Linked DNA regions of Homo sapiens: all the other regions are linked to region 2. The links come from fine-mapping of genetic effects on gene expression. A gene starts in region 2. Each other region holds a variant in brackets. All regions are shown on one strand. Distances are from middle to middle.

Region 1 (8,174 bases), 26 kb after region 2:
CAGGTGCCAGGTTTGGCTACACCAGTGCAGCTTTCCACATCCTTCTGGGTTCTCCTCGTCTCTATGCTGTTCTCAACACCCACATACCTCAACTCCTCAACCACACTTTTGAAATAGAGTTGCCAGATGAAGCAAACACCCTTGAAAATCCCAATGTACAGACATTTCTGTCTGCCTAAACAGCTAATTTATTGAGAACTTTGAGGCAACTTGCTTAATTACTTGCTTTGTTTTTTTCGTGTCTGCCACCTGGGGTGCCCACTTCAGTCTCCAAGGCATCATCGTGACCTGGGCTGGGCAGCCACTGGTCTAAGGGTGTCCTTCTGTTTCTATCACAGTTATGGCTACAATGACATTGTCACCATCCCAGCTGGTGCCACTAATATTGACGTGAAGCAGCGGAGCCACCCGGGTGTGCAGAACGATGGGAACTACCTGGCGCTGAAGACGGCTGATGGGCAGTACCTGCTCAACGGCAACCTGGCCATCTCTGCCATAGAGCAGGACATCTTGGTGAAGGGGACCATCCTGAAGTACAGCGGCTCCATCGCCACCCTGGAGCGCCTGCAGAGCTTCCGGCCCTTGCCAGAGCCTCTGACAGTGCAGCTCCTGACAGTCCCTGGCGAGGTCTTCCCCCCAAAAGTCAAATACACCTTCTTTGTTCCTAATGACGTGGACTTTAGCATGCAGAGCAGCAAAGAGAGAGCAACCACCAACATCATCCAGCCGCTGCTCCACGCACAGTGGGTGCTGGGGGACTGGTCTGAGTGCTCTAGCACCTGCGGGGCCGGCTGGCAGAGGCGAACTGTAGAGTGCAGGGACCCCTCCGGCCAGGCCTCTGCCACCTGCAACAAGGCTCTGAAACCCGAGGATGCCAAGCCCTGCGAAAGCCAGCTGTGCCCCCTGTGATTCAGGGGGGCAGGGGCCAGTCTTGTGCTCCTGGACATGCGGTACTGAGGTGCAGACAAGGGTCTCCACTGTGGTGACTGGGTCCCTTGGCCATATCAAGGCAGCACGGCCCACCCAGGCCTCCCATTGCCGCAACCCCTCCAGTACTGCACAAATTCCTAAGGGGGAAGAGGAGAGGGTATGGGGCGGCAGACCCTATCATCAACTGTCCAGTGGACTGGACCTTGCTCGGGTTCAAGTAGAGGGCATAGGTTAAAAGGTAAAAGTGCACTTATTGACTCAGACAGGACACTCAGCGTCAGTCTGTTTGCAAAGGACTAGCAAACTTAAATGAAAAAAAAAATTCTATCTGGTTTCCCCGATAAATAATCTACCTCACAGGGGAAAAAATTAGTACAAGAGAGGCGTGGGGCAGGGAGTCAATGGTGAATGTCAAAGCAGGCTCCAAAGCTGGACCCCAAGCTGTCTTCAAGAATGACCACGACTGTCTTCAGTGTTAAAATCCATCACCTAAAGGGCCGCAGCGTCGCAGGGTTTGGAGAGCCACATGTTCTCAGGCTGCCACCTGCAGGGGTGGATCCATTTCAAGTATTTATGCAAATGTGTCTCTGAACTAAAGTGTGATCTTATGCCAATGCAGTGGTCTGGTCTGATTCATTGTTTCTTTGGAAAGGGCAGCAACCTAGAACCCAGGGATGGAGGCTGAAACTAGGTCAGCAGCTGGATCCCTGCCTGCTCTGGGTCCTCACAGGCCTGCAGAATCCAGCTCATTCGGGCAACTTTCATTTGCAGGATCTAGACCAGTGGTTCCCAAGGTTTCATTAGGATCACGTAGAGGGCTGTGAAAATGGATTGTGAGGCTGGGCACAGTGGCTCACACCTGTCATTCCAGCACTTTGGGAGGCTGAGGCAGGAGGATTGCCTGAGCCCAGGAGTTCAAGACCAGCCATGACAATATGGCGAGACCCTGTTTCTATAAAAAATTAAAAAACGAAATCAGTCGGTCATGGTGGTACAGGCCTGTAGTCCCAGCTACTCAGGAGGCTGAGGTGGGAGGGTCACTTGAGCCCAGGAGGTTGAGGCTGCAGTGAGCCATTTTCATGCCACTGCACTCCAGCCTGGATGACACAGTGAGACCCTGTCTCAAAAAAAAAAAAAAAGAAAGAAAGAAAGAAAAGAAAACACAGATTGTGGGGCCCCATCCCCAGAGTTTCTGATCTAATGGTTGGGGTGGCCTGAGAATCTGCATTTCTAACAAGTTCCCAGTGACTGACATGGAGGCTGCTGGTTTGGGAGCCACACTGTGAACACCTGTGCTACAGGAAACGTCCAGCTGGGAGATCACAATTGTTATGCGATGCCTTTGGGCTCATCATTCTTGAGAAAGAATATCCCCTTCCTCTCTGTGAGCTACCCCATCATCCTCTTACATGCTGCCTGCCTCCTTTTAGTTTAGCTGGGGGCACCAGATCCTCAGCCCCTACTCCGCTCCATAGCTCCTCATCTCTCCTGTGGCTCAGAGGAACTCTGGCTCAGTCTTCCACCTGGTCTGGTGCAGAGGGAACTTACTTAGTCCCTGATCACAAATGGGTGACAAGAAACAGACATCAAGAAATGACATTCTAGCAAAAGAAGGAAAATACCCAAATGTGCATCTTGGTTTTTTTCACCACCTGTGCCCCCTTTGTCCTCCCATTCAGATATCTGGCACCATGGGCAGAGAGGATGCTGTAGGGGCACTAGGCAAGGCCATGAGATTCCAGCCCCACTGTTCCCCTTAGCTGCTCTCTACACGATGACAGCTGACTCAGAGTTGGTCACTCCTTCTTGTCTGCCTACTCTTTTCAGCGAGTGGGAGGCTGGGCTTACCTAAGCATAAACAGGCACACACACAGGCATGTTGTTGATGACTAGCAAAACCAGATTGTTTCCCTGCTGTGCACCAGTTTTGTGGAGGCTGATGTATGCTTCCGCAACTCTTCATCGCCTTCCATTTCTCGCTCTCCCCCAAATAAGGCCAAGCGTGTCCCCCTTAACGGCCTAAGCCAGGCCAGCTGTGCCATCCCTGCTGCCTGCATCATTACCAGGCACAGCTTTTGCCCTGGAGTTCAGCTGGCAGCAGAGCTGCTGATGTGCAAAGCAGAATGGAATCCAGCTTGGCTCTCCCGGTTGTGTGGGCTCGGCGAGGCTCTCAGAACGCATACTTGTTTGTGTCTGGAAATTCAACAGCTGCAGCCCAGGGACTCAGAAACCAGATCTGCAGAGGAAGACCACACCATTATCTGCCCCAGCCAACCACGACCACTCTGTGCACCCAGAGAAGGAGAGAAGACTGTATTTCCTCTGCTGAAAGATTGTGTTTTCCAGCTAGTGCTCCTAATGGAAACTGGTACTCTCTTCTAATGGGAGGCCCTGACTTGGCAGGTAATTTGGTCATTAATCTGAATCCTCCAGGCACCTGCCAGAAATACTTCGAAGGTGGTACAGTAGCATAAAGTTAATTTCCAACCTTTCATTTTTAAGATAAGTGAATCTTTATCTGGGGTTTATCCTCTGCCCTTTATTCCTCTATCACAGATCAGAGGGTTTTGTGAATTTACAAAAGTATGCAATATTACTATTCCCAGTCCACTCTAGCAGACCACCCCTCTCCCAGGAACATATTCCAGGGGTGGTAGGACCCATCTCACTAGATCCGCATCTGTTCTCTGATGACATCCACCTGCTTCTACATCCTTTGTGCTTGAACTTTTTAACCAAGTCACCCTCTTAGTGAGGACTCTTCCTCTTTTCTGGTGTCCAAACATGTCACCCTTCCTGTTTTCCTCTGGAGTGTGCTCCGGAGTTGTTTCAAACCACCCCTCCCTCCCCACACCCCCCAAAAAACAAAACTACAAATGACAAGAACAATTGGAAAGTTCTTAAGGGATACTGGCTTTTGCTTTGTCTTGATATTTTCCACTTGTGGTCCAGGGCAGATAAAGAGGGAGGCCTTGTCAGCCCTGCGCTATGGCGTCTGCAGCGTTGAGCAGCTGCGTGTACTGGGCTTTCCTGCGTGGTGCAGACTACCCTGCCCAGGTGCCCCTGGTCCCAGGAGGGGAGGCTCGTGAACCCCGCAGCAATCTCGACTCCGTGTGCTCTGCCCCAGATCACCAGGTCCCTCCAGGAACCTGCAGCATTTCCTTTGCTGTTTGGGAATTCAAAATGGTTTCTCGAAAAATGTGAACAGGAAGGCAGAATTTATCAAAGAGGACTAGATGTAGCACGACCCTTGGATTCCCAGATTTCTGCTGCCACAGACTCATCACTTCTTTTTGCCCCTATGATGAGTTGAAGCTACATTTCGGAACACATGGCCCCAAAAAACAGGAGACGGGGTGAACATCATGAGGACGGTGATGACGTCTTCTATAAGCCTAGGTTACTGGCCCTGAGACGTGTCCTCTGCCCTCCTCCACTCCCACTCTGCCCTGTGTGATGTGGGAGGGAATTCCTCAGGTGAAGACAGGCTCGTCCCTGCCCAGAATTTCCCATCCGTAGCTGCACCGCGGTTAGACACTCAGCTTCCCCAAGCCCCGCATGTGCACCGTCAGTAAGTACCGGGACAGGAAGCAGAGGAAGGGAAGGATGCAGCCGCATTCAGTCCCAGAGAACAGCAGGCCCGGGTTACTCCTCTTTGGTGGCCGGGGCTGAAGGACAGTCTGTCTTATGGGGAAAACTCTCCTCCCCACGTTTTTCTGGGGGCCTCCGCTGAGCTCGCATTGGGAGAGCTGC[A/C]TGTGGAATGTGGGAAAGAAGAAGTCACCCATCTAAGCCAGCGTCTTCATTGGCTCAATGTTGGTGATCACTAATGCGACAAATACTGTGGTTGTATTGACCGTACATATGACAACATTCTAAACAACACAGGAGAACACAACGAGCAACAGTAAAAACTGGAGGGTCCCGCGAACGGAGTGGGTGGGCTGTGACTCCCACACTTTCCCTGCCCCTGGCCAGCCCCTCCTAAGCACCTGTGTGCTTTCCAGGTCAACACTGCAGAATGACCTGGCCAGACGTAACCAATAGGTGTGGTCCTAAACAGCTGGTACCACACTTCCCTGGCTCGTTCTTCTTCAGGTGGGGAGTTTTTCTGACCTTCCACTTTGGAAAGAGCAGGACTTGCTTAAAACTGAGTGCCGGCCAGCCCACACCCCCTGAAATAGATCAAGGGACTCATCACAGCCACTGCTCAAGTACTGGGAAGAGACATGACACCAGTGCACAAGTGCATTCTGAACCGTAATGACAAGCAGAGAGCAAGAAAGCCACCTGTCTCTTTAGAACATACTTTCCCTCAGGCCTGGGGCTCAGTAGAAAGAGACAGGAAGGTTCCGGCTGGCCTTCCAGCCCCCAGAGCTGCCCAGCCCAGCCCTGGCAGATGCGAATCGCCCCAGGAAAGGAGAGAGGAAAGAAGCCTTCCCCAGACCTCACCGTTCCTCATTCCAAACATCTTGTAAGTCCCAGGGGCACTGAGAGAGTTTGTCCGCAGCCAAACACAACTTCCTGTTTCTAAGAAAGGGAAGAAAAAAAATAGTTGAAAGGGTTTTTGGACACTGGAAATTTCAAGTTTCTGTAAACGCGAATGAATCAGACACATGTGGAATGAATTTCTCCGGAAGTAAGAAAAGATGCTGTGAGTTCCTCTTGCTGGACCAGAAAATAGGAAAAGGGTAGCTGCGGGGGAGGTGCGTCAGAGGCTGCAAGGAGAGAAGCCATGTGGACATGGGATGGAAGAGAGGGTCCCATCAGTGACAAGGTTCAACGAGGCTGCCCTGAAGCCACGTTCTGAAGCTGCTCATTACTCAGAACTGCTCCACCTCTGAAGTCCTACATCAAATCTCCTCCTCCTCAACCACAATCTCCCATCTTCCCAGATCTTTCCCATAAATGCATCCTTCCCCATGCCCTGACCGCCTCCGCACGTGTCCTTCCCCCATCCATCTTTCCTGCTCCTCTGTCTTCAGCTTTCCCTGAGCTGCTTGGACTCCACGTTCAGCGCCTCCACCTCAATCTTGCCAGTGTTCTCACTGCCCTTGCCCCACAGACTCTCTGTGCTGCTCAGCAGGCAGAGCCTCACACGGCACCCATTCCCCTCTCCCCACCTCTCACCTCTCACGTCATCCTGCTACAAGCAGATCCACACCCCGGGGGAATCCCAGCCCTGAGCACACTGGTGCCACCATAAAGTTACAGCGTTTGATGGAAACTGTCCAGCAACCCGAGCAGACCCCCTCTCAGCAATACCGATGGTTGTCCACAGAACTATTCTGCGCTTCCCATGCTCCTCCAGCTCATCCCCATGCCACGCTTCGCTGTGAGTGAACAAACTCACCTCCACTGCTAAGTGGAGCCCAGTACCGTATCTCTTATCATGGAAGGGAGAGGGGACACCAGCTCACCATTAACGGGCCACGTATAGACACGAATCTAGAGGAACATTATAACTCTCTCTTATTTTGGATTCAACAGGCATGTTTCAATCTCTGTCAAGTCCATAGGAGAGTGAAGACTCAGAAGATAACTCCTCCCCCTGATTAAATTAATCCTCCAGCTCTCTGAAGGGCACAGTACATCATGAGATTTAAACACCTAGGTCTAAAACAAAAAAAAACAAAGAAAAAGAAAAATACGCCGGGCACAGTGACTCATGCCGGGAATTCCAGCATCTGGGGAGGCTGAGGCAGGCAAATCACTTGAGGCCGAGAGTTTGAGACCAGCCTGGACAACATGGTAAGACCTCGTTTCTATAAAACATATAAAAAACTTAGCCAGGGCTGTTCCAGCTACCCAGGAGGCTGAGGTGGGAGGATCACCTGAGCCCAGGGAGGTCGAGGCTGCAGTGAGCTGTGATCCTACCACTGCACTTCAGCCTGGGTGACAGAGCCAGACCCCTTCTCAAAAGTAAATAAATAAATACACACCCAGGCTCCCTCATGGCCCAGCTTCTCTACCTCATCCTCCTTGTTGGCCCCTCAGTTTCCACCACTGTTTGGAGTCCTGGGTGTGGCCCTGACATGGTCTGTCAGTCCCTCGGTTCTTTCTAGTTTCACTGTTAGATGGAGATGGTTCTTCAGATCCCAAAGGTGGGTGAGGGGAAGGGGGAAAATCTCTCACAGGGACAGGACCAAGGACAGCATACCTAAGAGAGTAGGCTTTGCACAGTACTAACTGTGGCCTCCTGCTAGCCTATCCCTGGTGCATTAGGATGTGAAAAAATGTCTCCCTCTTCTCCATCTGGAGTTACATTACCGAAAGCCTAGCCTACAAATGTGTCAGATCTCAGGAAGCAGGACAGGGTGAGGAAAAAAAAAAAAAACACAAGAAAATGAAATCGTAATTTTAAAAACCCTGTTCGTTTCTTACCACGAATCCTGAAATCTTGCTGGTAGCTACGGATGCGCCTCAATTTACACAGAGTTACATCCCCAATAAACCCATGGTAATATCGTAAGACTAAAATGCGTTTAATATCCCAATAAATCCATTGTAAAGTCAAAAATGTGTAAGTTGAATCGTCCTAAGCCCAGACGCTCCTCCACTTACAATCGGGTTACATTGGGATAAACCCATCGAACAGTCAAACAATTGATTGTAAGCTGAACCATCATAAATTGAAAACCATTGTATATCCATCCTTTTTAAAATCTATCCTTTCTCCTTCTGTTTCTGTTACATGAGAGGTATTTTCCCACTGTCAAAACTAATCCCTTCTCAATACTGCAGCCCTCCACCCTCTCAAGGCGCTCAGCCCCTCCACCATCCCCTCCCTTCCCAAAGACCCAGCCCCTCCCTCTCTGCTGACAGCTCCCCATCGGTGTTCGCAGGTGCTGTGTCTTTTCACTCCCGCATTTCACAGCTATGTCTCTCCACTCTCCCCTCGCTCCCTGAATTCCTGCTGCTCTTCCAAAGCACACAACTTCTCTCTCCAAACATCACATATACTCTTCCCTCTTCCGGAAATGTTCCTTTTCCTCTTTCTTCTCTCCCCACTTTAACATAGTCCTACTTATTCTTCAGGTCACAGATTAAAGGTCACACCCTCAATGAAACCCTCAGGTTAGGTTAAGCACCCTCATGTTGCTGTGCACTTAGCTTTTTTTTTGACAGAGTCTGGTTTTGTTGCCCAGGCTGGAGTGCAGCGGCACGATCTCAGCTCACTGCAACCTCCGCCTCCTGGGTTCAAGTGATCCTCCTGCCTCAGCCTCCTGAGTAGCTGGTATTACAGG
Region 2 (8,174 bases):
TTCCAAATTTGAGGAATCCAAATTGATGCTCTTTTACATTCAGGAGTCAGCAAACTTTTCTGCAAAGAGCCAGATAGTAAATATTTTAGGCTTACTCAACCCTTCCCTCGCAGCTCAAGAGCAAAGAATGCGTACATGAATGGCTGTGGCTGCATTCCAATAAACTTTATTTATGGACACAAATTTGAATTTCATACCATTTTCAAGTGTCAAGAAATTTTAATATTCTTTCTAATTTTTTTAATTTACCACTTAAAAATATAAAAACTATTCTTAGCTTGTAGAGTGCAAAAAAACAAGCAGTGTGCAGCAATTAGCCCAAGGGCCGTAGTTTGGCAACCCTGCCGTAATTACATATTTTGGGAAATAAAGTAGTAATGTAAGAAATCCGGAATTGGCAGAATGCCGTTATGGGATTTTCACGGGTTGGTTTGTTGATGTTTGTTTTGCTGCACTGTTTTCACCTGCCACTCCTCTAAGAGCGGCCACTACAAACCACCCACCCTTTCTCGCTCCCTGTGGCAAGGGTCCTGGGTTTAACATAGCCAGGTCCTGGGTTTAACATAGCCAGGTCCTGGGTTTAACATAGCCAGGTCCTGGGTTTAACATAGCCAGGTCCTGGGTTTAACATAGCCAGGTCCTGGGTTTAACATAGCCAAGGTAAGCCTGACACCTTGTGGTTGCATTGCGAACGGCAGGAGCTACCTTGGAAGTTAGCAGCACTGCACATCTGGGGAAGGGGAAATCCAGGAGGGAGCGGGGACTGCGGGGCCAGTCAATGAACCAGTCAGCAGGTGGTGGTGGTGGTGGTGGCGGCGGCGGCGGTGGTGGGTGGTGGGGGTGGTGGGGGTGGTGGTGATGTTGTTGTTGAAATGAGGAAGGATAAAGTCCAGAACTCACTATCTGACTTCTCTCTCCAAAGAGAACTTCCAAAATGCTACCTATGGGGGCACTTCATCCTATTAAAAAAATGAAGCAGCAGTGGCCAGGCTCGGTGGCTCACGCCTGTAATCCCAGTACTTTGGGAGGCCAAGGTGGGAGAATCACCTGACGTCAGGAGTTCAAGACCAGCCTGACCAACATGGTGAAACCCTGTCTCTACTAAAAAAAAAAAAAAACATCAGCCGGGCATGGTGGCAGGAGCCTGTAATCCCAGCTGCTTGGGAGGCTGAGGCAAGAGAATCACTTGAACCCTGGAGGCGGTTTCAGTGAGCTGAGATCTCGCCATTGCACTCCAGCCTGGGTAACAAGAGCGAAACGCCATCTCAAAAAATTAAAAACTAAAATAAAAATGAAGCAGCAACTTCCAGAGCCTTCACAACCAAAGGCTCCATGGACACTCAAGACTTTCCTTGGTTCAGTTAAATCTCCCACTTCTAGCCCTTAGCATTCGGGCGGGAGAAAGGGAAACTGGGCACGCTCCTCACTCCCACTCCTCCCAGATGCTTACACTCGAGAAAGAAGGAAAACCCACAGGACCTAACTGCTACTGAAAATCAGGAGTTAGCTGGCACAGTAGCTCACACCTATAATCCCAGCACTTTGGGAGGTTGAGGCAGGCGGATCACCTGAGGTCAGGAGTTGGAGACCAGCCTGGCCAAAATGGTGAAACCCCATCTCTACTGAAAGTACAAAAGTTAGCCAGGTGTGGTGGTGCCTGCCTGCAGTCTCAGCTACTTGGGAGGCTGAGGCAGGAGAATCTCTTGAACCTGAGAGGGAGAAGTTGCTGTAAGCCAAGATCGCACCATTGCACTCCAGCCTGGGTGACAAAGTGAGACTGTGTCTCAAAAAGAGAAAATCAGGAGTTGTACTCTGGGAAACAGCAAATAAGGGGCTTCAAGGAGGTAAAAACCAGTCATTGAACTGTTACAATAGCCCTGAGGCAACACAGAGTTGTATTCATTGCTTGCCCAGGTCAGACTGTCCCAAGCACTGTACAGGATGTCCCAAGCACTGTACACTGTGCTAGGACGAAGTGTTTTGCTTGTTTTGAGAAAAGGGTTGAAGAGACCATTCTTTCCATTGTCCTTCCTCTAGAAGTGTTTCCCCAAAACATTCTAGACTCGTTATTCCTATCCTATAAATTATGCAGGAAAGGAGGTTCTGCACCATGCTAGGTTGGGAAGTTCATCCTTTCATCTAATTCACAGCTGTCCCTCTGTGTTTCTGAGAAAGCAAAGAGAGGGGGGATACTTAGAGGGAATTTGGCAGCACTTTCCCCTGGGCAAGAGCCTCCTCTTTGGAGGTAACAAGCCCTGAGAGTCTCAGATGCATGCTGAACCACCACACTGCAGGAAGGGGTCAGATGGGCTGAAAAGAATCAGCGATGACCTCGACTGTCAACATCCCCAGCATAAGCACAGAGCTGGGTACCTGGGGGCAGGTGAATTGGCAAAGGATTTAAAGGCCCTGATCCCAGCGGTTCCTAATGCATCACCCACATTGACAACTCAGAGAAAGGCACAGTTGGTGGATGAGTCTAGAGTTTGTAGGTAGAGAACAGGGCCCTCCACCCAATCCAGACCTGTGTCATTGAGACTGGGATGGGATGCAGTTTTGTGGTCTTGAGACCATGTCATCCCTCTCTTCCTGAATACTACCCCCTTCCCTAGGGGGCAGTGGTGACATGGGACAGAATAAATTCACCTCATACACATTTGTTCCTGGGGCTGTGGCAACGCAGTGAAAGGGCCTGCCACCTTACTTGAAGTCCCGGGCAACTAGCAGTATCCAGAAGAGAAGACCTTTTTCAGGGACTGGAGGTCTGTTTCCCTCTTGGGGAAATGCTAACTTCCAACCTCAGTGCTGGTAACTTACCACTGTGCTGGCCTCTGCCCCACCTGCCCTCTAACAGGACAGTGAGAGTCCCTCTTAGGGTTAACCAGGTGGGTTGTTTTTTGTTTTGTTTTTGTTTTCCCCATCTTCAGTTTGGAGTGAAAGTTAGGAAGGCTGTGCAGTAGTGATGAGAGGAGGGCATGATTTTAGCATGACCTTTTCCTCCTCTCCCTTTATGCTTTACAATGAAAAGCTCAGGAACCTTCTCCCCACACAGTCGGATCTCCGGAGGCATCTGCAGGGATCCCAACAGTGTCGGGCTCTGCAGTCGGACTCTGCAGGGATCCGAACAGGGTCGCTGAGACCAGTGCACGAGCCTCTTCGGAAGATGCATCCTGGACTCTTGGCCGCAGAGGAGAAAGCGGTTGGGGTCTCCCAGGGACTCTTTCTAAAGGGTCAGTCCAGCATGGTAGGGGTTAACGTGGGTCCACGCGTAGAGGGAAAGGAAAGAAGTTGTAGTTGACACTTCAGGGGGGCGGGTGGCGGACGGGTCTCGCTGCCTGATTGGTTTTGCATTTCATCCCAATTTTTTTTTCTCCACTCTCTCTCCCTCTTTTCAGTTTCTCTCTCTGATCCCAGGGGAGGGGAAACGGGAATAGTGAGAGATCAAAAATAAACCTCTTATGTCAAGCCGGGAAGGAAGTATAAATAAGAAGGGCTCGGCAGCCCACTCGGTGCTTCCCGGGGTGGGGAGGAGGCAGGAGGCGGCTGCGCGGGGCTGGCGCGGGCAGGGGCGGAGGACGGGCGCACGCGGGCCGGGGCCAGCTGCTCGCGCTCGGCTCGGGGGCGGCGGCGCGGGAGGAGCGGGCTGCGCCAGCCAGAGGGGCCGCCGGGGGAGCGCTCCCGCCGCCGGGCCCCGCGGGCCGAGTCGGCCTTGCACCCGATTGATTCCGCTTTTCCTGGAGAGAGCGGCCGGGCCGCGCTCGGGCCGCCAGCACCTGCCCGCGCCTGGCGGGCTTCTTCCCTCTCCTGCGCGCAGCCACCGCCGCAGCCCCCATGCTCCCCGCCCCCGCCGCCCCCCGGTGGCCTCCGCTCCTGCTGCTGCTGCTGCTGCTGCTGCCGCTGGCCCGCGGCGCCCCGGCCCGGCCCGCAGCCGGGGGGCAGGCCTCGGAGCTGGTGGTGCCCACGCGGTTGCCCGGCAGCGCGGGCGAGCTCGCGCTCCACCTGTCCGCCTTCGGCAAGGGCTTCGTGCTGCGCCTGGCGCCCGACGACAGCTTCCTAGCGCCCGAGTTCAAGATCGAGCGCCTCGGGGGCTCCGGCCGGGCGACCGGGGGCGAGCGGGGGCTGCGCGGCTGCTTCTTCTCCGGCACCGTGAATGGGGAGCCCGAGTCGCTGGCGGCGGTCAGCCTGTGCCGCGGGCTGAGCGGCTCCTTCCTGCTGGACGGCGAGGAGTTCACCATCCAGCCGCAGGGCGCGGGGGGCTCCCTGGCTCAGCCGCACCGCCTGCAGCGCTGGGGTCCCGCCGGAGCCCGCCCCCTCCCGCGAGGACCCGAGTGGGAGGTGGAGACGGGAGAGGGTCAGAGGCAGGAGAGAGGAGACCACCAGGAGGACAGCGAGGAGGAGAGCCAAGAAGAGGAGGCAGAAGGCGCTAGCGAGCCGCCACCGCCCCTGGGGGCCACGAGTAGGACCAAGCGGTTTGTGTCTGAGGCGCGCTTCGTGGAGACGCTGCTGGTGGCCGATGCGTCCATGGCTGCCTTCTACGGGGCCGACCTGCAGGTAGGACTGAGAGCCTCCTCCAGCCGCCGTGCCCGGAGGCCCCCCAGACGCCTCCCAGCGTCTCTAAAATCTCCCCTTCCAATCCCTCTGAGAAAAAAAAAAAAAAAAAAAAAAAGCCCTCCCCACTCATCTTCTCCAGCCTTACCCCAAACGAGATTCTCTCCTGTCTGAGAAAGAGCAGTAACTCTTTTCTGAACTTCTGCCACCCTGGATCCCTGCGCCCCCACCCCCAGGTCCCTTCCAGTTTAGAGTGGGGCTGCCGACGCCCATCCCTCTCATCCGAATCTCCCGCGGCACGTGGCGCACTGACCCGAAAGTGGGTATCAACGCATTCCCCGGCACCTGCCTCTCCCAGCAGAGATGAAAATTGAGCGTTTACGAATAGCTCCCACTCCCACCCCTCAGCCCTCTACTGCCTCCAGATCTGAGAGGCTCCCAGGGAAAGGCAGATGGGATGGAGAGAGATGGCTGTCTGATTCCCTTGGGTATGGAGGTCGCCATAAGCAAAAGACATTGTTTGAAAGGAGCTGAACCTGGAGAGGGGCTGCCCAACTTCTGTGCAGCCAGCTGGTTGTGATCAATGGGGCATGGACTACCTTGCCAACCTGGCGCTCAGCCCCGGCAGAACTTGGCAATGCCAGCAGCCAGCACAAGAGGGAGGGGCAGAGAACTTCTGCCTGGGGGCTCAGCCCAGGAGCTGAAGCTTTGGTGGAAACGCGAGGGGCGCAGGGGCTGGAACGAGCTCTTTGGGTGAATGTCTCTAGTAAAGCCAGACCCACACTTGGTCCACCCAGCTGCCCTTAGCCCAGACACAGCTCTTACCTAAACAGGGGAGAAAAACAGAGTCCAGGGGATGGCTACCTAACCAGACCATTTCTAACTAGATGCAAAGATGGTGCTGACTCAGCAGGAGGTGTCTGTGTTGCCCTAAACCCCAATTTCTCCCCTAAAGACCAGGTGAAGGCTTTTCCAGGAGGAAAAGAGGGTAAGGCTTCCAGAAGAGGGGTGCTCTTTGCCCCTAGGGAGCACAGAACCAGAGATGTGCCAGGGAAGGAAGAACTGACCTGCCCAGACGTCATAGTTCCCTGAAACAGGGATCCTGGCAATGCAGCAGCTAAGCTGACACTTTGTGGTGATGGCATCCTTGGCCGGGACCCAATACTAGGCTCAGTCTGTGCCCGACTGCTGGGGGCCCCAAGGGCATAGGCATTGCCTGTGCAGAATAGTCCAGACAAGGAGGCGATCAGCCTTCTGTTTCTCACCCCATCTTTCCCACCCTCTATCACTGGGAAAGGCAGGGTAGGAAAGACCCAGGGAGAAACAGATGATTAGGATGGGAACTGCTGTGGGTGAGAGTCCACGTGGCTGCCCCTCTGGCTACTGCAGGTGCTGACTACACCCCAGGGACGCACCCCTGCAAGCCCTTGTGGTATTTGCTTCCCCAAAAGCAGGGCAGAGCAGCTTTGGGTCACGCTGATTTAACACCTGTTTCCCTGCCTGTCCTGAGAGCACGGAGCGGTGGGAGCACCAGCCCTCTCCTCTGACTCCTTTCTTTAAGCAAGTACTAGAGAGTGTGGCAGGAGAGGGGTGAGAAGAGGGCTTCTCCCATCTCTTTAGGACCCCCACACCTGGCTCCTAGGGGGCTCCACCAGAAAGAAGCTAAGATGGCCGGGCACGGTGGCTCAAGCCTGTAATCCCAGCACTTTAGGAGGCCGAGGTGGGCAGATCGCAAGCTCAGGAGATCAAGACCATCCTGGCTAACACGGTGAAACCCCGTCTCTACTAAAAATACAAAAAAAATAGCCAGGCGTGGTGGTGGGCGCCTGTAGTCCCAGCTACTCGGGAGGCTGAGGCAGGAGAATGGTGTCAACTCAGGAGGCAGAGCTTGCAGTGAGCGGAGACCGCGCCACTGCACTCCAGCCTGGGTGACAGAGCAAGACTCCATCTTAAAAAAAAAAAAAAAGAAAAAAGAAAAACACAAAAAAAGTAAGAAGCTAAGATGCACCCATTGCAAACCCAGAGCGGGGTGCTACACCCCTCTACCCCCACACATGGAACAGATTCTGACATCTACCTAAGAACCAAAACATAGGAAAGCCAAGAGAACTCCGTGCCAGCAGAGAAAGTCCATTTTTCAGCCTTCAGGGCCAGACTGTCTCACTCTCTCAGCTGATCACCTGGACGCTGGAGATAACTGAGTATTTGCCTCAGGGACATACTCGCATCTCCAGACATCCTAGCTATCTAGAGGCAGACATGCTCTGAGGCCCGACCCCAGGATGCCCGGGCTGCTGAAGCAGGAGACTCTGCTTGGGTTTGCACCCGATTTTGTTCCCTTCAGCTTAAAGTTCAGGTCTGCTGCCCCAGACAATTCGGCTTTCTCTGTGTCAGAGACACCCAGGCATTGCCATCCTCATGAGACTCCTGACCGGGCGATGTGGCTCCTGCTTGCCCCGCTCCCCATCCCCCACAAACACGCATTTCTGGACCTTTCCCAGCTGCACATTGGCACCTGCACACCCAGCCAGCCCACCTGGACCAGGAGAGCGCAGCAAAACAGGCATCGGGCACCTCTGAAGGCTGAGTTCCTCTCCCTAGGGGGTTGACTTCTGAGTCTCACCTGGAAGAAAAGTCTTCCCTCAGGGAGACTAGCCCCGCCACCTCCACCCTGGGTCTCATGTCCCATCCCACCTGTGCTCCTGCTGCCACCGTGGCGGGTGGGGGAGGGACTGAGGTACAGCTGTGTCCAGGACCACCCTCGGGCCCCTGTGCTATGATGAGCTGACCAGCCTTGGAGATGCTGCAGGACAGGCGTGACTGTCTCAGCTCAGTCCCCTGCGCTTCCGAAAACAGATCCATGAGCCCAGCTGAGAGAAGAATGAAAATCAAGTTCCCGTGCCTCAAGACCTTGGCTGCCCACACCCACCTCCTGCAAATGGAAGCCAGTCCTTTATGTGGAGACCTCATTCACACAGAGGGAAGGCACTCTGGGGTGATTACTCTTGGTAATCAGGGGTGTGGAGGATGAGAAGAGCCTTTACCTCTCTAGGGCTTAGAGTTCCTCATCTGTGAAGCAGGACACCTGGACTAGGTGATCAATCCCGGTCTGAGCACCTGTGTGGCTGCTTCATGATGAGCCAGTCTTCTGGAAGGTTTAGCCACTCTCTGAGCGTGTTCAATTCACAGCGTGGTTTTACACACATCACCTCCATGAAAATACCAGTGAGGGGGGCAGAGGGAGACTGCACAGCTCACAGAGGACATGTGGCTTCCTCAGGATCAGACAGCACCGATCAGGATCAGTAAGTGGCAGGGCTGGGCCTGCAGACCAAGTCTCCCAAAGCTGAATCCTGTGCACTGTTATCCCACCAGGCGGCCTCTTTCTCAGGACTAGGGTCTGTGGCTCTGTCGACCCTCTGATACTTGCTTATGTTGTGGGAGTGGGTCTTTAAATCCAGCAGTTCAAAGCCATCCAGGCCCACTGTGAGGCCCTATCCTGCAAAGAAACCGCCGTGGAGGCTGAGAGAAAGAACGCACCACTGCCAAAGCTGGTCTCACTATGTTACGCGACAATGAAGTTTTCCAGAGCTCTGTCAATTGAGTTCATTTAATCCCATGAGAAA
Region 3 (8,174 bases), 32 kb before region 2:
TCTTGACCCTGGTTCTCCCGTGACAATTTTCATCCTTCTGTCCTTCCGCATAACATGTGCCTCTCTGTGTCTTGTATCACAGCTACAATTCGAGCTTCCCCACTTGACTGTGAGCTCTCTGAGGCATGGCCTGTGTTTTATTTCTTTTTCTGACCACCACAGTATCTTACACAGTTCCCTGAACACAGTGGGTTTTTGCCTAGCCAACGGTTGAAGGTTTAATTAGACATGTATCCCCAGAACACAGAAAAACATTTTAAATAATTCTGTGCCATACTCATCTCAGGGCAATTGATAATGTGCTTGGTGGATGCTTTTTTGTGACACTGCCTCTGTGCCCAGAGGCAAGTCGTCCCCGAGCTGAGAACAGGGGATGGGAAGGGACAGTCAGCTCCAGGATCCGGGAGGAGAACAGACCTCTTATTCCTGCCCGGAAAAGTACAAATCCCTCTCCTACCCCCAAAACCCCCAAAACAAGACCTGAACAAGATAAAGTTATTATATACAGAGAATATTTGGCATTCTGAATGTGTTCTTGTTTGGTTGCTATTCGTATTTATCAGGAGGGAAAACAAGTATTATTCAACTATGTTCCTGCTAAAGAAAAACAGCAATCGCAACAGAAATGGAAGCTTGATTCAGAATGCAGCCAATTCCCGAAGCTTGCCCAGGGCTTTGCTTCATTGCAGCTCTGAGCCCTGTTCCTGAGCATGGTCCCCAGCTCCCTGGGTGTGGAACACACTGGGAAAGAGTGGATGAGAGAAGGAAGGGATGAGCCAGCGAGTGAGCCGCTCCTGACACTATGTGTTCAGTTTTGAGCCCAGAGCTCCTCCCCAGGTAGGACGAGGCCCGGAGCTCAGGGCTGAGACCCCACGTCCTGTTGAAGGCTTTTCCCCATGTGTCTGAGGCCTCACCAAGTCCTCTGACCTGCCATAGCTTTTCTCTCCGGTCTTAGAGTCAAGAAGGGGATAGGACTATATACAGGGCAGTGAAGGCACAGCTCAGCCATGCAACAGTGCTGGTCCCGTGGCCAGTCTGTGATAGGCACCTTCCTGGTGAAGACCAAGGGCAGACGAGGCCCCCGGGTCTCCATCCCTCCTCCCAGCAGTCCCCGAGCGCAGCTCCAGCACTCACTCACCCTGTGCTTGTTGAGGTTGTGTCTCTCCACGCAGGCCCCTTTGAGGCAGAGCTTGCCCTCGCCACAGCTGGTGCCATCGGCCCAGGGGAAGTGGCGGGTCTGGCACACCATCTGTCCCTTGGCCTTCCCGGTGCACCACAGCTTGGTGCAGTACTGCATGTAAGGACAGGGCTTGGAGCCCACGCCAAAAGCCAGCTCGCACTGCTGGCTCAGGGTGTAGCTGGCGCCCGGCAGATCCTCGGGCAGGGAGATGGGCTTGCTGGGTTGGTCCAGGAGGCAGTCACCTGCAGAGAGCCGAGGGCGTTCGTTAGGATGAGCTGGGAAGATGAGGTTTGGCTAGCCCAGAATCTGAATGGTAAGGGGATAATGAACCAAGGGCAACAGGAATGCACTCATGTCAGAGCCCGGCTCCGAGGGGGCACACACACCTAATGTACAGAGGACGGAGAAGTGAGCACCTCCACCAGGGGCAGCAGCAAAGCCCCCTCCGAGGCGGCCTCATTGCCCTCCCGCCGTCCTGGCTTACCGTGCCCGCTGTCCAGGAAGTCGGTGATGATGGCAGCACTGCAGGCTGACCAGGGGTTGGCACGGTCGATCTGGATGAGGGTCGGGGACATCATGTGGTTGGCTCGGAGCTTCCCAAACACCTCCTCACAGACTTTCACATTGTCATGGGGCATGTTGAACACGTGGCCTGTGGGGTAAGGCAAGAGGACTGAGAGGGCAGGAGGAAGGACATGGGGGTTGGAGGGAGGAATGGGGCAGGGGAACTAGAAAGCCCATGTCAGAGGTTTTCAGGCTGGTCATTGCCAACTATCGACAGACTGCTTTCAAATGTCCTCAAGATCATGTTCTTGTGTTTTCTGTCCCCTCCGTCAGGCTGTGGGCTCCCTGACAACAGAGTGTACCTCCTTGTCGTTAACATGGTGTCCCCACAGTGCCTAAGTGCTGAGACACTCTGCCAAGGGGCTCAAACCACGTCATTGGCCAGCGGGGCTGGGGCAATCGGAAAAAGTACAAAGCTGCTGCTAAGGCTCACTGTGCCCTAAGAAGGGGTCCTAAGGCTTCAGAACACAAGGGGGCAAAGACACACGTCTCCCACCCTCCAGGCTCCCCAGGCAAACCCAGAAGACCCCAGGAGGAGCTTATCCAGCCTTACCCAGCTCGTGGGCAGTGGTGAAGGCTGATGGAAGCCCATCGTCCTCAATGACAGAGCAGCTTCTCTTGGGGTCACACATGGTACCCACATCAGCCATGCCCAGGGTGTCACAGGTGGTGGCTCCACACAGGTCCTGCCGGGTGGGGGAGAAGCAGAAGCCAGCCCGAAGTTAGAGACAGTGACAGAAGGGACCTGAAGGGAAGAAAGGACATCCTATAGGACATTCCAGCTCATCTCATTCCAACCTCACCAGGCCCAGCACCTTCCAGCTGGGCTCTTCTTCCTAGGAGGTTGTGGGGCTGTTCACAGAATCAACCTGGCTGAGGGAGGAAACCCAGGAAGAGCTCTGTGGCTTCACCAAAAACACTCTGCCCAAACCCTATGCAGGGAGGTCCTCTGGGAGGAAATTAGGAGGTACAAAATTAAACTACAAGGGCCACTACTTTATAGAGAGACGGCCCTCCAGACCAGAAAAACAGTGACTCCCATAGCCAAGGGAGGCTCGCTGAGGCAACAGGGAGGAAGCCAGTCCCATTCCCACCCAGAGGCAGCTTCGAGCAGCCTCGGTCTTTGCTGGGCTGCCTTTTGGCCAACCATGAATTAAGTTAAGATTCTCAGCCAGAGGGCTGCTGGCCAAGGACCCACCCATGCCAGTGATCAGGCTGGGAGGAAGCATTGAGGTGGACCCCAGACCCCATCCCGGCACAGTTTCATTGGCTACAGAAGCTCAAGGGGACACACGCTCAGTGGCTGCTAGGAAGAAAGATACATGAAATAGAGAGATGGCCACCTAAGCAGGAAGGTCCCTCGTTTTGTACTGAAGCTTAACTTGGCCACAGAACCTAGGGCCTCCAGCAGAAAACCCTGACAGGAAGTATTCCCAGGGGACGCAGAAAGGCAGGATAGGGCTTCCGGGGTGGATATCTCAAAGAACTTACTGAGCATCGTTGGCCAGAAACACATTCAGATAACTTAAAAGCCCAAAAGTTGGAAATAGGATAAGACATTTGTGTACATTCTGCTCCTCTTAAGAAGACGTGTGTTGGGCCAGGCACGGTGGCCCACACCTGTAATTCCAGCACTTTGGGAGGCCGAGGCAGGTGAATCACCTGAAGTCAGGAGCTCAAGACCAGCCTGGCCAACATGGCGAAACCCCATCTCTACTACAAATACAAAAATCAGCTGAGCATGGTGGCAGGTGCCTGTAATACCAGCTACTAGGGAGGCTGAGGCAGGAGAATCGCTTGAACCTGGGAGGCAGAGGTTGCAGTGAGCCAAGATCACACCATTGCACTCCAGCGTGGGCGACAAGAGCAAAACTCCGTCTCAAAAAAAAAAAAAAAACAGAAGATGTGTGTTGAATCAGTGATGCTGGTTCTCTCATTACATCGCTGCCTTTAATGCATAAGGCATTCTGCATTTCACAGGAAGCTGCTACATGTGTCACCTCATTTAATCCTCACAATAGGCTTATGATGCAGACATATTATTGTATCTATGTGTCAGAGGTGGGAACTAGGCTCATGCCTATAGTTCATCATGGCTATGATGTATTAAATGCTGACACTGTGCATGCACTTTGCACACACAGCCCTATTTAATCCTCACAACATCCCACTGAAATAACGACTATTACTACCACCTTCCACAGGCAAAGAAGCATGTGTCTGCATGCATGTGCACGTATATGCAAGGCCACATGTGCATCTGTGTACATGCTGGCAAGGGGCGAAGGTGGGCAGCAGCACAGCGCAGGGAGCCAGGAGCCAGGGGGCATGGGAGGAAAAGCGGTCAGAGTACAGAAAATCAGCAAAATTTAATCCAAAGCACTCAGAGGTTTACCACCTGAGCAGTCAAACTTGGCTTCCCACGGTCAGATGATAGTCACACCTCCTAATGAGTGAACAGTTATTCCGAGGGTGACCAGCCTGAACCCGGGTGCACCAGAGGCAGTGATGTGTGCCCTGCACACCCAGCCAGGTCTGCCACCTGTGCTTGCTGGAAGCACTACCTCCACTTCTAGGAGCCCCATGGAGGACTTCAAATGCCCTTCTCTTCCCATATTCTTTCGTCTTCAAAGACCCACTCTCCCAGAAAGTTTTCCTTCCCAAGAGCTCTGAAACCTAGAAAACAACCACTGTCAAAACTTGGGAGGGGCCTGGGCGCAGTGGCTCATGCCTGTAATCCCAGCACTTTGGGAGGCCAAGGCAGGCAGATCGCTTAAGTCTAGGAGTTCAAGACCAACCTGGGAAACATGGTGAGACCCTGTCTCTACAAAACATAAACAAAATTAGCCAGGCATGATGGTGCACACCTGTAATCCCAGCTCTGCCTCCCAGGTTCAAGCGATTCTCCTGCCTCAGCCTCCCTAGTAGCTGGTATTACAGGCACCTGCCACCATGCTCAGCTAATTTTTGTATTTGTAGTAGAGATGGGGTTTCGCCATGTTGGCCAGGCTGGTAGGAGGAGGCTGAGGTAGGAGGATCACTTGAGCCTGGGAGGGTAATCTACAGTGACCCGTGATCACGCCACTGCATTCCAGCCTGGGTGACAGAGCAAGACTCTGTCTCAAAAAAAAAAAAAAAAAAAAAAAAAACACTTGGGAGGGGACCTTCACCCGACCAGCAGTTTAGGGAATGTGACAGCTGA[G/A]AAACATGGATCAGCGTGTGAACTGTGGGGAAGGGAGCCAAGATGAGGGCAGGGATGAAGGCTCTTGCAAGGGCATAGTGAAGGATGTAGGTGTAGGACGGGTGTGGTGTAGGACCCAGCAAGGCTGGAGCTCTGGACATTCTAGCCTAGCAGTTGCAGCCTGCGGGGGCAGGCACCTACCCTTGCCTCTGGGCTGCCCTGCACACTCACTGCTCCCTGTGTAAGAGGGAGAGGGCGCAGAAATAAGAATCAAGAAGTCTAGATTCCGGTCCTGGCCCTATCACTAAGTAGATGTGTGACTTTATCCAAGTCCTCTCTCTTCGGGGCCTTGGTTTCCTGCTCTGGGGAAGGGCCAACTTTCAACTAGAGCCTGAATCAACCAGTGCTTTCAGCCTCTGCTCCTTCCCCAGTCCCAGAGCATGCAGCCCCTTCTGGCCCTGTAGGTTATAAAGGGAACCCACAGAATGACATATTTTTAGAACCCCAAGGAACATCTTGTCTACTGACCCAAGTCATGTAGTTGACAGCACTCGCTCTCAGAAAAGTGGAAGTCACCCACGTGGAGATTCAGAGTCCTGTTCCCCGGCCCCGCTCTTCAGAAATGCCTAGACCAGGCAGGATGCAGTGGCTCGGGCCTGTAATCCTAGCACTTCGGGAGGCCAAGGCGGGAGGACGACTTGAGGCCAGGAGGTCAAGACCAGCCTGGGCAGCGTAACAAGACCCCATCTCTACAAAAATTAAAATTTAAAAAAGAAAGAAAGAAACCGCTAGACCAGATTGAATGCTCAGACTGGGATCTAGAGGGCGTCTGGAACTCAGCCACCCCGCAGCCGCCTCTGTGGCTGGGAAGTCCTTACGGCCAAAAGCCTCCTTCCTCCTAGGGAGGGTGGATTTTCTCTGGAGCAAAGACATGCAGCTGCAGGCCCTTCTTGGCCAGAAGCAACCTGTTCTTTCCATCAAGAAGTCCCGGTTTCCCTGGATCAAATGAGAGGAACAAGGAAAGAGCCGGCAAATTTCCTGAGGGTAAGAGTGGCTCTGGAAGCAGCCGTCTTGCAGTAACCAGCGTCTTCACTGTGGGAAGACACAGCTGTATGGGGTCAGAAGCTCTGCCTGTCCTCCTCCCCACCCCGGCAGGGACTCAATGAAGAACCGCTGGGCCTCTGCACTTTGAACGCCTACGAGTGCTTATACAGGGGCCCAGCAGTGCCTCCTTTGTGGCATCAAAAATCTCCACCCTTCTGGAATGAACTCAGAGGCACTAAAACTGCCTTAACCTCTTCAGCCCAAGTGCTTGCCTCCAAAAAACAGAAGCTGTTCTGCCTTCTTCCTCCCAGAAGGTGTAGGTATTCCTAACCCAGCCCCTACCTGCCTCACGATTCCCAGCAATTGGCTGTTTTTCTTTGTAGCTGCAGCCACTTTTCCAGATGATCCTGGAATCATCTTGGCCAGGAACCTTAATCCTCCTGGACTGTTATTTTCTAACTGTCCCTTCTTATAAAATAATTTAGGATTGGAGCCACACCTTAAATAAATAAACAAGGATAACATCTGACAGTAGCTTGTTTACCAGTGTCACTCCATACACACCTCCACCACGATTCCCACCAGCTGCCATCCCTGTGAACCACCTTCCTACCTCTTCTCATTTCCCAGGCATGTACCAAGATGCTCAATGTTTTCCAGCAGTACAAAGACAGAGGGATGCACAAAAATCAAGCACATTAACTTTTTTTTTTTTTTTTGAGACTGAGTCTCGCTCTGTTGCCCAGGCTGGAGTACAGTCGTGTGATCTCGGCTCACTGCAACCTCTGCCTCCCGGGTTCAAGCATCTCGTGCCTCAGCCTCCCGAGCAGCTGGGATTACAGGCATGCGCCACCACGCCTGGCTAATTTTTGCATTTTGAGTAGAGACTGGGTTTCACCGTGTTGGCCAGGCTGCTCTCGAACTCCTGGCCTCAAGTGATCCACCCACCCCAGCCTCCCAAAGTGCTGGGATTACAGGCATGAGCCACCGCACCTGGCCGCACTTTAACATTTTTAATGTGGCAGAAGACATACGCATTCTCATGTAGCGGACTTTGCTTCCATTGAAGTTCTAGGCAGGAGAGCCAGAGCTCATCTCTGCGGCTACATCACAGCATCCAGGTATTATACTCACAGGACTGCAGGGCTGTCTTCTCATGCTGCGGATGAGGAAACTGAGGCTCAGTGACTTGAGATTATGCACCCCAGTCCCCATGGCTATTAAGCAAAGAATGAGGTCCCCAATCCAAAGCTATGTTCTTTGGTCTAAATCATGCAACACTAGTTAGGAGACCATAATTACTGGTGAAAAGCACCCTGCGCTAGTATTACTACTGTACCTTTAACTTGTTTCCCATCCGAATCTCTGCCATGCATCACTGTATTTCCTTGTCCAGCCCAAAATCCATGTCTGTTTGTAATCCCCAAGGATGGGAGGGCCTTGCTTTGCTAGAAGAAATAAAATCTAGCAATTCAGTGCCTTGGCAATGTGACGAAGAATGTTAGTTACTTCTACTGGCAGATTCTATTTCACTGGCATATAAATCCCTCCAGATGTACAAAATGGTAATACTGCAAGAGAGTGAGGTCACCAAAACAATAATAATTACCTCAATGAGGAAGAAGAGGGACCCCAAGCTTGCAAGAAGGCTAAATCTTCTATAAAAAAAAAATCACCCCTTCAAGAGAGAGGGCGCCTACAAGAAGAGCGATAATAGCTAACAGTTACTGACTGGCTACTGTGTGCCAGACTGTCGCGAGAGTTTTATCTGCCTTCATTCATTTAATCCTCACAGCTGTAGGAAGAAGATGCCATTATCAGGCCCCATCGCACAGAAGAGACCCAGAGAAGGTAAGTAACTAGCCCAGGGTCACACAGTAAGCCCAAGGTTAGACAGAGAGGAAGGGCGCAGAGTGAGGATTGAAGTCCAGGCAGCACAGCGGCAGGGTTGAGCTGTCACCATGACTTCCTGCTGCCTCTGGTGCATATCGCCCCAAGAATGGAAGGCCTCGCCCTGTAGCTCAAGCAAGTGCCGGTTGACACTGAGTGGGGAGAGGCCTGGGGAGAGGGAGAGGCAGGATTAAGTGCCGAGAGTGCTCTGAGTGCACCGTCTGCGCCACCTCTCCGGTTGAACGAGCCCCCGGCTCCTTGCCCCACACCTGCATTGACACACTGACCCCGTCCCTGCCCTGCCATGCACCTTGT

Direction of the effects. Alleles are on the strand shown, and positions count from the first base shown. SD is a standard deviation of normalised expression in the study named.
For the expression in testis of the gene that starts at base 3,509 in region 2, allele A in region 1 goes with a higher level than allele C (moderate effect, 0.43 SD a copy in GTEx).
In carriers of allele A in region 3, the expression in hippocampus of the gene that starts at base 3,509 in region 2 tends to be higher than with G alone (large effect, 1.1 SD a copy in GTEx).

The links. PIP is the estimated chance that this variant, and not a neighbour inherited with it, causes the effect.
Region 1: its variant is fine-mapped to the expression of ADAMTS8 in testis (GTEx, PIP above 0.99).
Region 3: its variant is fine-mapped to the expression of ADAMTS8 in hippocampus (GTEx, PIP above 0.99).

Annotation. Positions count from the first base shown.
Region 1 is chr11:130,398,293-130,406,466 of GRCh38, reverse strand. ADAMTS8 (ADAM metallopeptidase with thrombospondin type 1 motif 8) reads left to right here. Exons shown (of 9, transcript NM_007037.6): 9 at 339-1,544. The coding sequence ends at 909. ZBTB44-DT (ZBTB44 divergent transcript) reads right to left here. Exons shown (of 7, transcript NR_148980.1): 6 at 5,380-5,457; 7 at 2,810-3,166. Among named protein-coding and RNA genes, the nearest start is that of ADAMTS8, 26 kb to the left of the region's middle. The variant A/C (reference allele first, on the strand shown) is at 4,684.
Region 2 is chr11:130,423,944-130,432,117 of GRCh38, reverse strand. ADAMTS8 (ADAM metallopeptidase with thrombospondin type 1 motif 8) reads left to right here and starts at 3,509. Exons shown (of 9, transcript NM_007037.6): 1 at 3,509-4,551. The coding sequence starts at 3,832.
Region 3 is chr11:130,455,745-130,463,918 of GRCh38, reverse strand. ADAMTS15 (ADAM metallopeptidase with thrombospondin type 1 motif 15) reads right to left here. Exons shown (of 8, transcript NM_139055.4): 2 at 2,298-2,430; 3 at 1,665-1,832; 4 at 1,139-1,422. Among named protein-coding and RNA genes, the nearest start is that of ADAMTS15, 11 kb to the right of the region's middle. The variant G/A (reference allele first, on the strand shown) is at 4,947.